Linked DNA regions of Homo sapiens. The protein of the gene in region 3 purifies or fractionates together with the protein of the main gene of each other region. This does not show direct contact. Each region holds a gene or a part of one and is shown on either strand. Other genes may lie near its edges.

The links.
Region 1: the proteins of SLC30A7 (region 3) and SNX14 purify together in Homo sapiens (affinity purification with mass spectrometry; one large-scale study listed by BioGRID and IntAct). This does not show direct contact.
Region 2: the proteins of SLC30A7 (region 3) and SETD9 purify together in Homo sapiens (affinity purification with mass spectrometry; one large-scale study listed by BioGRID and IntAct). This does not show direct contact.

What each region holds. Positions count from the first base shown.
Region 1 is NC_000006.12:85,506,707-85,510,368, forward strand, and holds part of SNX14 (sorting nexin-14), read right to left. Parts: intron 2,111-3,662; coding exon of another isoform or gene 2,064-2,110; exon of another isoform or gene 1,614-2,063; intron 1,608-1,613; coding exon of another isoform or gene 1,570-1,607; exon of another isoform or gene 1,354-1,569; coding exon 1,262-1,353; intron 584-1,261; coding exon 527-583; intron 1-526. UniProt on the Homo sapiens protein: Plays a role in maintaining normal neuronal excitability and synaptic transmission. May be involved in several stages of intracellular trafficking. Required for autophagosome clearance, possibly by mediating the fusion of lysosomes with autophagosomes.
Region 2 is NC_000005.10:56,915,070-56,917,858, reverse strand, and holds the end of SETD9 (SET domain-containing protein 9), read right to left. Parts: intron 1,045-2,789; coding exon 957-1,044; 3' UTR 511-956; downstream 1-510.
Region 3 is NC_000001.11:100,902,574-100,906,235, reverse strand, and holds part of SLC30A7 (zinc transporter 7), read right to left. Parts: intron 1-3,662. UniProt on the Homo sapiens protein: Zinc ion transporter mediating zinc entry from the cytosol into the lumen of organelles along the secretory pathway.

The DNA.
Region 1 (3,662 bases), on a different chromosome or scaffold from region 3:
AACAGTTGTTTCATCCAACCAAAAGGATTAGTCAAAAAATAAGACAGAAAATAATGACTTAAACCTTTGCTCAAAACTCAAAATCCTCAAGATTCAACATAGTAATAATATGACCATGCTCTAATTTTAGTTCATTTTGTGCTTGGGTTTACATAAAACTTGCTTCAAAAATACTCTAGTTTCTGACTTACACAGCATACAATGGTGCAGACGATAACACTGAGCTTGGCCTATTCTAGTGCTAGGACTTACACTCACTTCTTCCCCTGGAAAGACTATATAGGGTCCCTATCTGCTTGTAATTAAAAAGGGATGAAGTCAAAGCAGAAGCTATTCAATAGCTGTCCCCCAGAATTGTTTGGGCATGTTTAATAAAGAAAATACAAAAGGCAATTTGCTGAGGTTAATTTTTTAAAGAACCACAGAGAACAGAGACAAGGGTTTTCTTACATTTATGTCCCTAATTAAAATAAATGTCAGCATACCATTAAGAAAATCATGAATAAAATTACTGCTTTTCAGTTACCTTATTGAGCTCTGGAAACAGTTCCTGTATCACAATGTCCAATAAAACATAAGTCAGCTAAAGCACCAAAAAATAATAATAATAAATGTTAAGGCACTAAACACAAAAACCATAAAAATGATACACACAAAATTAAAGATTGTGGTTACCTCTAAGTGGGAAGGCAGGGAATGGGACTGATAATATAAAACAAGCACAAAAGTAGCCTCAGTAGTATCAATAATGTTCTATTCTCAAAATAGGTAATAAGTACACATGTGTTTGCATGAGGACACTTTCATTATGCCTCATTAATTCATTTTTATGTTAAATATTTGAATTTTTAGAAAAACAAGAACACAAAATCACAACTGTATTGAGATCTCAACAGAATATATAAAGCTTATACATAGTTTACATAAACCATAAACATAAAAATGTTAACTGGTTATTCTATGTGACTTGAATAATGGAATTATCCATTTTTAATTTTTTACTGTATTTCATGAATTTTCTATGCCAAATTTTCTACAATTACTATATATTAATTTTAAATCAAAATAATTCATCTTATTTAGAAAAAACTGAAACAAAAAGAGTAACTCAAATAAAACTTTTTTTCTATCTGAATGTTTAAAATTATATTGCCTTGGTTTAGTATAGTGTCATTTATACAACTAATGAGTTACCAGACACCTTACTACGTCGTTCACCAAACCTAGCCAGCATGAGTTTACGAGCTTTAATGAGCTTTACCTGCTTGTTGAGTACTGGTTGCTGTAAGCCATCAAACAGAAGTCTGATGCTTTCATACTTGGTTTCTTCACCAATACACTTGACTAACAGATCTAAACAAAAAGGCCAAATGTGAAATAATTTTATATTATAAAGTGACTCACCATTAACTGGATCATAAAGCAAAATCACCACCCTGTTTCCCAGATACTAGGCAAAAACTGCAAATCAATACTCCCCAAACCAGTGTTTCTATAAGAGGCTCCTGGATAAGAGGTTTCTATGGTCAAGTTGACAAATGCAGTATCATGTATCCCATTTTTGGAGATTCACAATGCACAAGGCATAATGCAAACTCTGAGAAATGCTGCAGTAAAAAAAAAAAAAAAAAAAATCTGCTAGTTGGAAAATAATACTTATTGTATTACCCCACTAAGGGAAAACAAAACAAATTAAACCCTAAAATGATGTTTGTACATCTGTACATACATGTATAGAAATGCATGGAAAAATGTAAGGATTAACACCCAATGTAGGATAAGCCGACTTCTACCCAGTGGGCAGAAGATAGCTTCTACTTTTTATTCTATATATTTTCATAGTGCTCTTAATATCAGAAAAAAAAAGTTTAATTTTTAAGGCAGACTTTTCTCAGTGAATAAGAACACCTAATTTCTGGACTTTTGCATAAGTTACTATTAACCATCTTACAAACCAATCATTTTGGGAAATATAACAAATATTTAAACACTTATTTAGGGTCCAACGAGTTCAGATTTGTGTCTGGCTGCATAGATGTCATGTACCACTGATATCAATTCTGTTACCAAGAAAAGTCAATCCTTATTAAGATCTCCACTGAATGCTTCCCTAAGCAGAAAAAAAAGAAGTTATTCTTATATAAACAAGGTACTCAAATATTTATCCTTTTTCCCCTATCATAACTAAACTCCTAGTGTTGGTCATAAAAAATTCTAATGCTAGGAGACAAAGCCAAATTTAATTTACAATAGGCATAGTACATCCTTGGTATTTTCAAGATATGTGGCCCAATACAAATCTTTGTTAATCCTCAAACTCACCAATACTACATGGAATTTCCCAATTAATATGCATGAAACTAATGAACAAATATACGTAATTCTTTCACATCCTTCAGGTGTCACTAAGTAAGAGATGAGGAGCAGAGGATAACACAAAGGAATGGTAAGCTTGCTCAAGAGCTAAGTTACTCTCCCAAACGGGAGTCTTAAAGTGAATGTGGTTTGAATTTGTGCCTCAGCAAAATAACAAATTACTATATTCTCTGGCTCTCCATGTTGTTTCTGAGTATCAAAGCTGAGACTGTTGAAAGTATGAATGCTAAGGGTCATTATATCAGAAAACAGGTAAAAAAAAATTATTTCATCATTTGCCTACAGAAAATTTACTCAAAAACAGCTTATGTTCAGTTTTATATTCAGAGCAGATATTTAAGTTAATTATTTTCACAAGGAAGAGCAGAACTATTCTAAGGCTAGTTCCTCAATATTAAGAATTCTCTAAGGTTCTGTCCTAAGACCTCCTCTTTTTAAAATAAACTTTACTTTTTAAAGTAGTTTTGTGTTCACAATGAAACTGAGCAGAAGGAAGAGATTTCGCATATGTTCCCTGTCTTGTCTCCCCGACTATCAACATCCCCAACAAGAGTGTACATTTGTTACAACTGATAACACACATTGGTACATCATTATTACCCAGAGTCCATAATTTACATTGGAGTTCGTTCTTGGTGTTGTACGTTCTGTGGGTCTGGACAAATAGATGATGATATGTAACCATCATTATAGAGTAGTTTCACTGCCCCAAAAAATCCTCTCTGCTCTGCCTATTCATCCCTCCCTCCCCTCCAATCCACTGTCTTCTTAGTTTTGCCTTTTCCAAAACAGCAGATAGTTGAAAATATACAGTATGCAGTCTTTTCAGATTGGCTTCTTTCTCTTAGTAAGATGAATTTCAGGCTCCTCCATGACTTTTCATGATGTGACAGCTCATTCCTTTATAGCACTGAATAATATCCCATTGTCTAGAAGTATGAGTTTATTTATCCATTCACCTAAATAAAGAACACCTTGGTTGCTTCCAAGTTTTGGCAATTCTGAAGTTGCTATAAACATTCATGTGCAGGTTTCTGGGTGGACATGTTTTCAACTGCTTTGGGTAAATATCAAGAAACATAATTGCCAGATCTCATGGTAAGAGTGTGCTTAGTTTTGTAAGAAACTGCTCACCTGTCTTCCAAAGTGGCTACACCATTTTGCATGCCCACCAGCAATGAATGAGAATTCCACATGTTCACCAGCAAATGGTGGTGTTGGTGTTCTGGATCTGGGCCATTCTAACAGGTGTGTGGTGGTATCTCATTGTTTTAAATGTGCATTTC
Region 2 (2,789 bases), on a different chromosome or scaffold from region 3:
AGAGAGCTGGAGTCAGGTCGATGGAGGTCAAAGTAACTATTGCTAATAAAACGGGAAGGTAGCTTCAGGGCTGCAGCCAGGTTGGCCTGCCAATATATTACACCTCTGGACTCACTCTGTCACTGGCTGGGCTGGCTACAGGCTATTCTCTGCACAAGGCAGAGAACTGCCAGGACACATTCTTTCTGCTGGCAGCCAGAGTCCACAGGGAAGGAACTAGAAGGGTATATAGGACATGGGTGCCTAGTTATTCTCCAAACATAATCAGGGAGTCAATCTCCCTCCAGTGGGTGGAGAGAGAGGCTAGGAACATTAACCAGTGGAAGCCCTCCACATGAAGACATGAGACACGGGGAATAAGTGTTCCTCCCACCAACACTATCTTGCACTTTTTTTCCACCTTTTCTTTGGTGTGAAAATGTTCAAAGAGTAAAGAAAATAGTAATAATGACCTCACATTTTCCCCTCAGCCAGCTAGAGCAATCTTTACATTATACATAGACACACCAATTTACTCATGGCAACACAATAGGTATTTTTTACTCAATTCTGTAAAAATAAAGTTTTTACAGAAGTTTGTACACATCAGCAGTACTACAAGAACTGCTGATGCCTGGCTACAATTTTATAAACCACCACAGAGCTTACAAAATAAACAAAAGAAAAATTGAAATTATAAGTTCAAAGAGTAGGTTTTAATTTAATAAGCTATTGTGTATTTAGGTGAAAACCAATTAAACTTGGAATTGCATTACAAATTTGAAATTGTAATGAAGCAAGTAGCTTTTATCATGAAATTGGAACATAAATATAATATCAACAAAAACATAAGAAATTCCTATTCCAATTAAGTCTCAAAATATTTGTTTTACAGGTAGAACTCAGAGAAGTGATTAACAAAAAACACTTAGAATTAATAGCTGAGTAGAAAACCTAATAATTTCTGATTCACAGAGTTAGCTGACAATTGTGTAGTAGTTTGAAAAAAGCTCTTCTCCTTGATTGATGTCCCTAAGTGCGACAAGAACAACACATCGAAGTGGGCTGAAAACAAAAAGATATACAAAAGGTAGAGCATTAACAAATATAAGCTCATATTTTTAATATAACCAAGATGGCTTTTATAGAGGTAACTTTACTCAGGTTCCTTCCATTTTAGTTTATGCATTTGATTTCCATGAGGAAATAGTTCTTATTCCTGATGCAGGTATTCTAAAGAGTATATCTATATCATTTAAAAAATCACAAATCAATGTTTATACAACTGACTACTTCTTCTGAAAACATTGTTTCTAAGTTTAGGCCCCCAAAACTAGTATCACAAAAAGGATTTTAAAATGACATTATAGTTTTTCTTGCATTCATTTGTATCTTATATCCTGAAAAATGAAAACATTACTTAAAATTAGTTGGAGTTTTAAAAAAATGCTTTTTTCTGGACATCATAAAATATTGTTTGTTTTTTTTGAGATGGAATCTCACTCTGTCACCCAGGCTGGTGTGCAGTGGTGTGACCTTGGCTCACTGCAACCTCTGCCTCCCGGGTTCAAGCGATTCTCCTGCCTCAGCCTCCTGAGTAGCTGGGATTACAGGTGCGTGCCACCACGCCTGACTAATTTTTGTATTTTTAGTAGAGATGAGGTTTCACCATGTTGGTCAGGCTGTTCTCAAACTCCTGACCTTGTGATCCGCCCGCCTCGGCCTCCCAAAGTGCTGGGATTACAGGCATGAGCCACCGCACCCAGCCTAGATATTGTTACATATATACATTCAAAGTTCTAATAACATCATGCCCCGGAGTATATGGCTAAGAAAAGCTAATAGTTAAACACACAAACATACACATGCAGAGAAGCAAAAGTTATCAAGTTTTTGGTTTTTGTTTTTTTCCTGTTTTGGGACAGGATCTGGCTCTGTCACCCAGGCTGCAGTGCAGTGGTGCCATCTCAGCTCAATGCAACATACACCTCCCAAGTCAAGGATCCTCCCACCTCAGCTTCCCAAGTAGCTGGGACTACAGGTACACACCACCACACCCAGCTAATTTTTGTATTTTTTGTAGAGAAGGGGTTTTGTCATGTTGTCTGGGCTGGTTTCGAATTCCTGTGCTCAAGCAATCCACCCACCTTGGCCTCCCAAAGTGCTGAGATTACAGGCTTGAGGTACCGTGTCTGGCCTCAAGTTTTAAGTATAAATAATAGTTCATGTTTTAAATGTCATTCATCTTAGAAGGACAATTTAATAGGTCCTATATAAAATAAAGTTTGCTAGCAACTCAACAAAATAATACAAAGATTGTATCTTCCTACAGCACTGTTAAGAAAGAACTCTTAGCTCTCCAGAATTACCTATATTTTAAAATTGTTATTTGAATATTCTCAGTAGACTTTCCACTGAATGAACAGGAAATAAATGCTATGTTAAAATATGTGTCTTCTGAATACAGTCCTTTTTTATTTAGTTTCATTATTAAGAACCTAATAGTGAAATTGGCAAAGGAATCATAGTGTAATTTGGCCTCTTTCTTCAATTGGATGCTTTCTTATAAGGTAGAGAACATGATATTATAAATGATTAAAGTAAAGATATATTTGAAGATTTTGTAGGTAGGAAAAACAACAGAATTATTTGAAAAAACTTTAAGGTGGATACTTATGAAGTATTGCCATAGAATAAAAATGGGTAAAAATAAACAGAATGAGCTAGTTTAAAGGAAAATTTTAAATTTCAAATAAGCCTACATTAACACGTTAAGGTGTGAACATAAAAATCTGAGTTATAATTTTTCA
Region 3 (3,662 bases):
TGCAGAACTTGCTAAAAGCTGAGAGTGGAGCAAGAACCCTGAAAAAATCCTGCAGTACTCCAAATCCAATACTAATCACAAAGTAGTAGGAACCACTGAAAAATTCAAAGACTGTGATTTGTGGAAATCAGCAATAACAAAACACAAAACCCAGCTCAACCCCAGTTTGACTACTGAGCAAATAGTTTCGAAAGTCCCATACTAACGGCCAAACAGAAAAATAGGTGTGCCCATTTCTGGACATATACAGTCTCTATTATTCTTTTAAACAGAATGTCCAGCACTCAATGACAAAATCAAGAAAGAAAAAAAGAGAGACTCATTGTTAAGAGCTACAACAGTCAACAGAACCAGAAATGGCCCCAATGTTGGAACTATTAGATAGGACTTTAACAACAAATACAATTAATATGTCAAAGGATGTGGTATAAAGTCAGAGAAAATTCATTAACAAATGAATAATTTCTGCAGATAAAAACTATAAAAGAATATAATGGAAATGATAATTTTTTAAAAATTACAATATGGAGGAATAACAGTCATGGGCTTCTGAGCAGACTGGACACAGAGAGAAAGAATCAGTTAGGTCAAAAGAAGTTAAACAAAGTGCAACACAAAGAGAAAAGAGAGTGGAAACAAACAGACAAACAAAAAAAGCAGAGCATCCCAAACCTGTCTGGACGTATCAAACATACTAAAATACATGTATTTAGAGTCTCAGGAACAGAAAAGAAAAAAAGAAAGGGATAGGAAAAGTATTTAAAGAGAAAATGTTTCAGAGTTTTCTGAAATTCATAAAAGAAAATAAATCACAGATCCAAGAAGCTTAATGAACCCAAGCGAGGAAAAAACCCTCCACACGTCACAAACCACTAAACATCAAAGAGAAATAAAAAAATCTTTGAAAACCAGAGGGGAAGAAAGAGAAAAATTAAATTAAAAAAATAAAGATAAAATTTATAGCATGTTTTTCTTCAGAAACTATTCAAGCCAGAATGCAATGGAGCAACACCTTTAAAGTATTGAAAGAGAAAAAAAATACTGTCAACAACCTAAGGTATGACAATAATAGCACACAGAATGGAATAAGAAAATCAAAGTGTATTATTGTAAGGTTCTTATCAGATACATGAAATGACATATTATTTGTGATAATTTAAAGATTAATATTATACATACTAAAGCACCCACTAAGAAAAGCCACCAAAAGAAGGGAAGGAAATCCTCTACCAACACAAAGCAGACGTTCTGCTACCACTGAGAATGGAGAAGGAAAGTTGTCTCCATCCAGGACCATAAACATACACACAGTAGAGTTTGGCTATTACAGGAGAAGGAGTAAAAATGTTGACAAAATCATACCCCTGAGGTTGAGGCTTACAGAATCTACCAAAGACAGAGGCTTTGGGTTAAAGTTAACAAATACCCCTCTGCCTTCACCATAAACTGGGTACTGAGTAACAAGCAACAGCAGTCTATAGCTTGGGCAGGAGTAAGCGCATGAAGAAAAGAGCTTCTGTGGCACAGGCACCATACAGAGATTACTAAAAGCACAAAGTCCAACCAACTAGTGGTCTGACAGACAAGGCATACCTATTTCCGATCATAAATACTATTACCTCAGTATCTACTGTTTTTTACTCATAATGTCCAATATTTGATAAAAAAAATTTCAAAATACACAAAGAGCCAAAAAAAAAAAGAAGTCACTGTGGAGAAAGCAGTTAACAGAACCAGACCAAGATATTGACCCAGATACTGGAGCTATCATAAACTCTAATTAATATGTTAAAGGATCTATGGAAAAAGTGGACAAAAAAATATGAACCAGTGGGGAATTTGGTAGAGAAGTGGGAAATATAAAAAACAATCAAATGGAAATACTAGAAACAAAAAACAAGTTATCAGCGATAAAGAATTCTTCCAATTGGCTTATCACAGACTGGACACAGCTGAGGAAAGAAATCCGTGAACTTGAAGAGAAGTCAATAAAAATGTTCTGAAAGCAATCATCAGTTCAGTCTTTAAAAACAAGCTTCTGAAGTCAGAGTACCTGGGTTCAAATCCCAGCTCCAAATTTACTAGTTCCGTGACCAGTAAGTTACTTAACTTCTTTGTGCCTCAATTTAGCCATCACTTCAATAGAGTATAGTATAAAAGTGTCATAATTGTTATAATAATTGAGTTAATATATATGAAACATTTACCACAATGCTTGTCACATTAAAACCACATTAATATTCCTATTGCTAATTATTAATAAATCACATTATTAATTATTAACTATTATTAATGCTTATAATACCTGGTGTTCCCAAGCACAACCCATACCTCTTAATATTTGGCTAGATGCTAGAGTTTTCATCAGTTGGAAGTGCTACAAACTAAAAGTCAAAAACATTCTTCACACATACAGAAAAAGCATGGTTTTAAATTTTTCTCATAATTTGGAATAATTATATAATTAGAAACTAAGTCAAAGCACATCATTTACCAACAAGAAAAAGCACAATAATTTATAAACCTCTGCCAAATCATTACAAAAGATTTTAGAAAATGTCTTAAACTTTTATCATGAACCTTATTTATTCCACTGAAATATAGATATATTAGAAAGTTTAAGTGCAGATAGTACTTTAACCATCTCATCTGACATCTAACTCAAAGCAGAATGAGAATTGGTGAATAAATGATAAAGCAGAATAATAAAACTGATACATGAGGACAAGGTAAGGGGCATATTATTCATGCAATTCTCTTAGATTTAATATTTTAAGATTTGTCCTTGTATAGTTAGATTACCGAAAATTACACACTTGAACCATAACATCTATGTAACATGGAAAATAATGATTTAACTTTATTTTGAAGTATGAAAGACTCATGTGAAGAATTTCTCTATACTGTGATAAAACCATTAATAAAGACATTGTCTATGATTTTGTTTTCGATCCCCCAAGAAAAGATTAATATGGCAAAATACTGTTAAAATTTGATTTCAGAAAACTGTCTTTCTACTCTGATAAAATGATAGAGTTGTGTTCACTTTATGGAATTTTATAACTAAATTTAAAAGTCAATTTTGGGAGCTAAATTAGACTATATATTTAATAGATTAATTTTTTCCTCCCTAGGTATGGTTTCTAAATGTTTTTATTTCTTAATGTGTTTTATTAGTATATATAGCTTTTATTTTAAATTACTGTAATCAGTTTTAGAAGGCAGGGCATTCATTGTAAATAAATATAAACAAACATTTACTGATTTATTGATCTATATTTTACTATCTATTTCACTATTATTTAGTAAAACACTGTCATGGGTTGAATTGTGTTCCTGCGCCCAAATTCATATGTTGAAGTCCTAACCTCTAGTACCTGAGAACGTGACTTTATTAGAAATGGACTCATTGCAGATATAATTAGTTAATATTAGGTCATTAAGGTGAGCCCTCATCCAGTGTCCTTATAAAAAAGAGAAATTTGGAAGAAGATACATAGATCACAATGCGAAGATAAGGCAGAGATCAGGTGATGCTCCTACAAGCCAAAGACTGTCCAAGATTACTAGAAAACCAACTGAAGCTACAGAAAGATCATGGAACAGATTCTTCCTCAGAGCTCTCAGAAGAAATCAACCCTGATGACACTTTGATCTCTGAC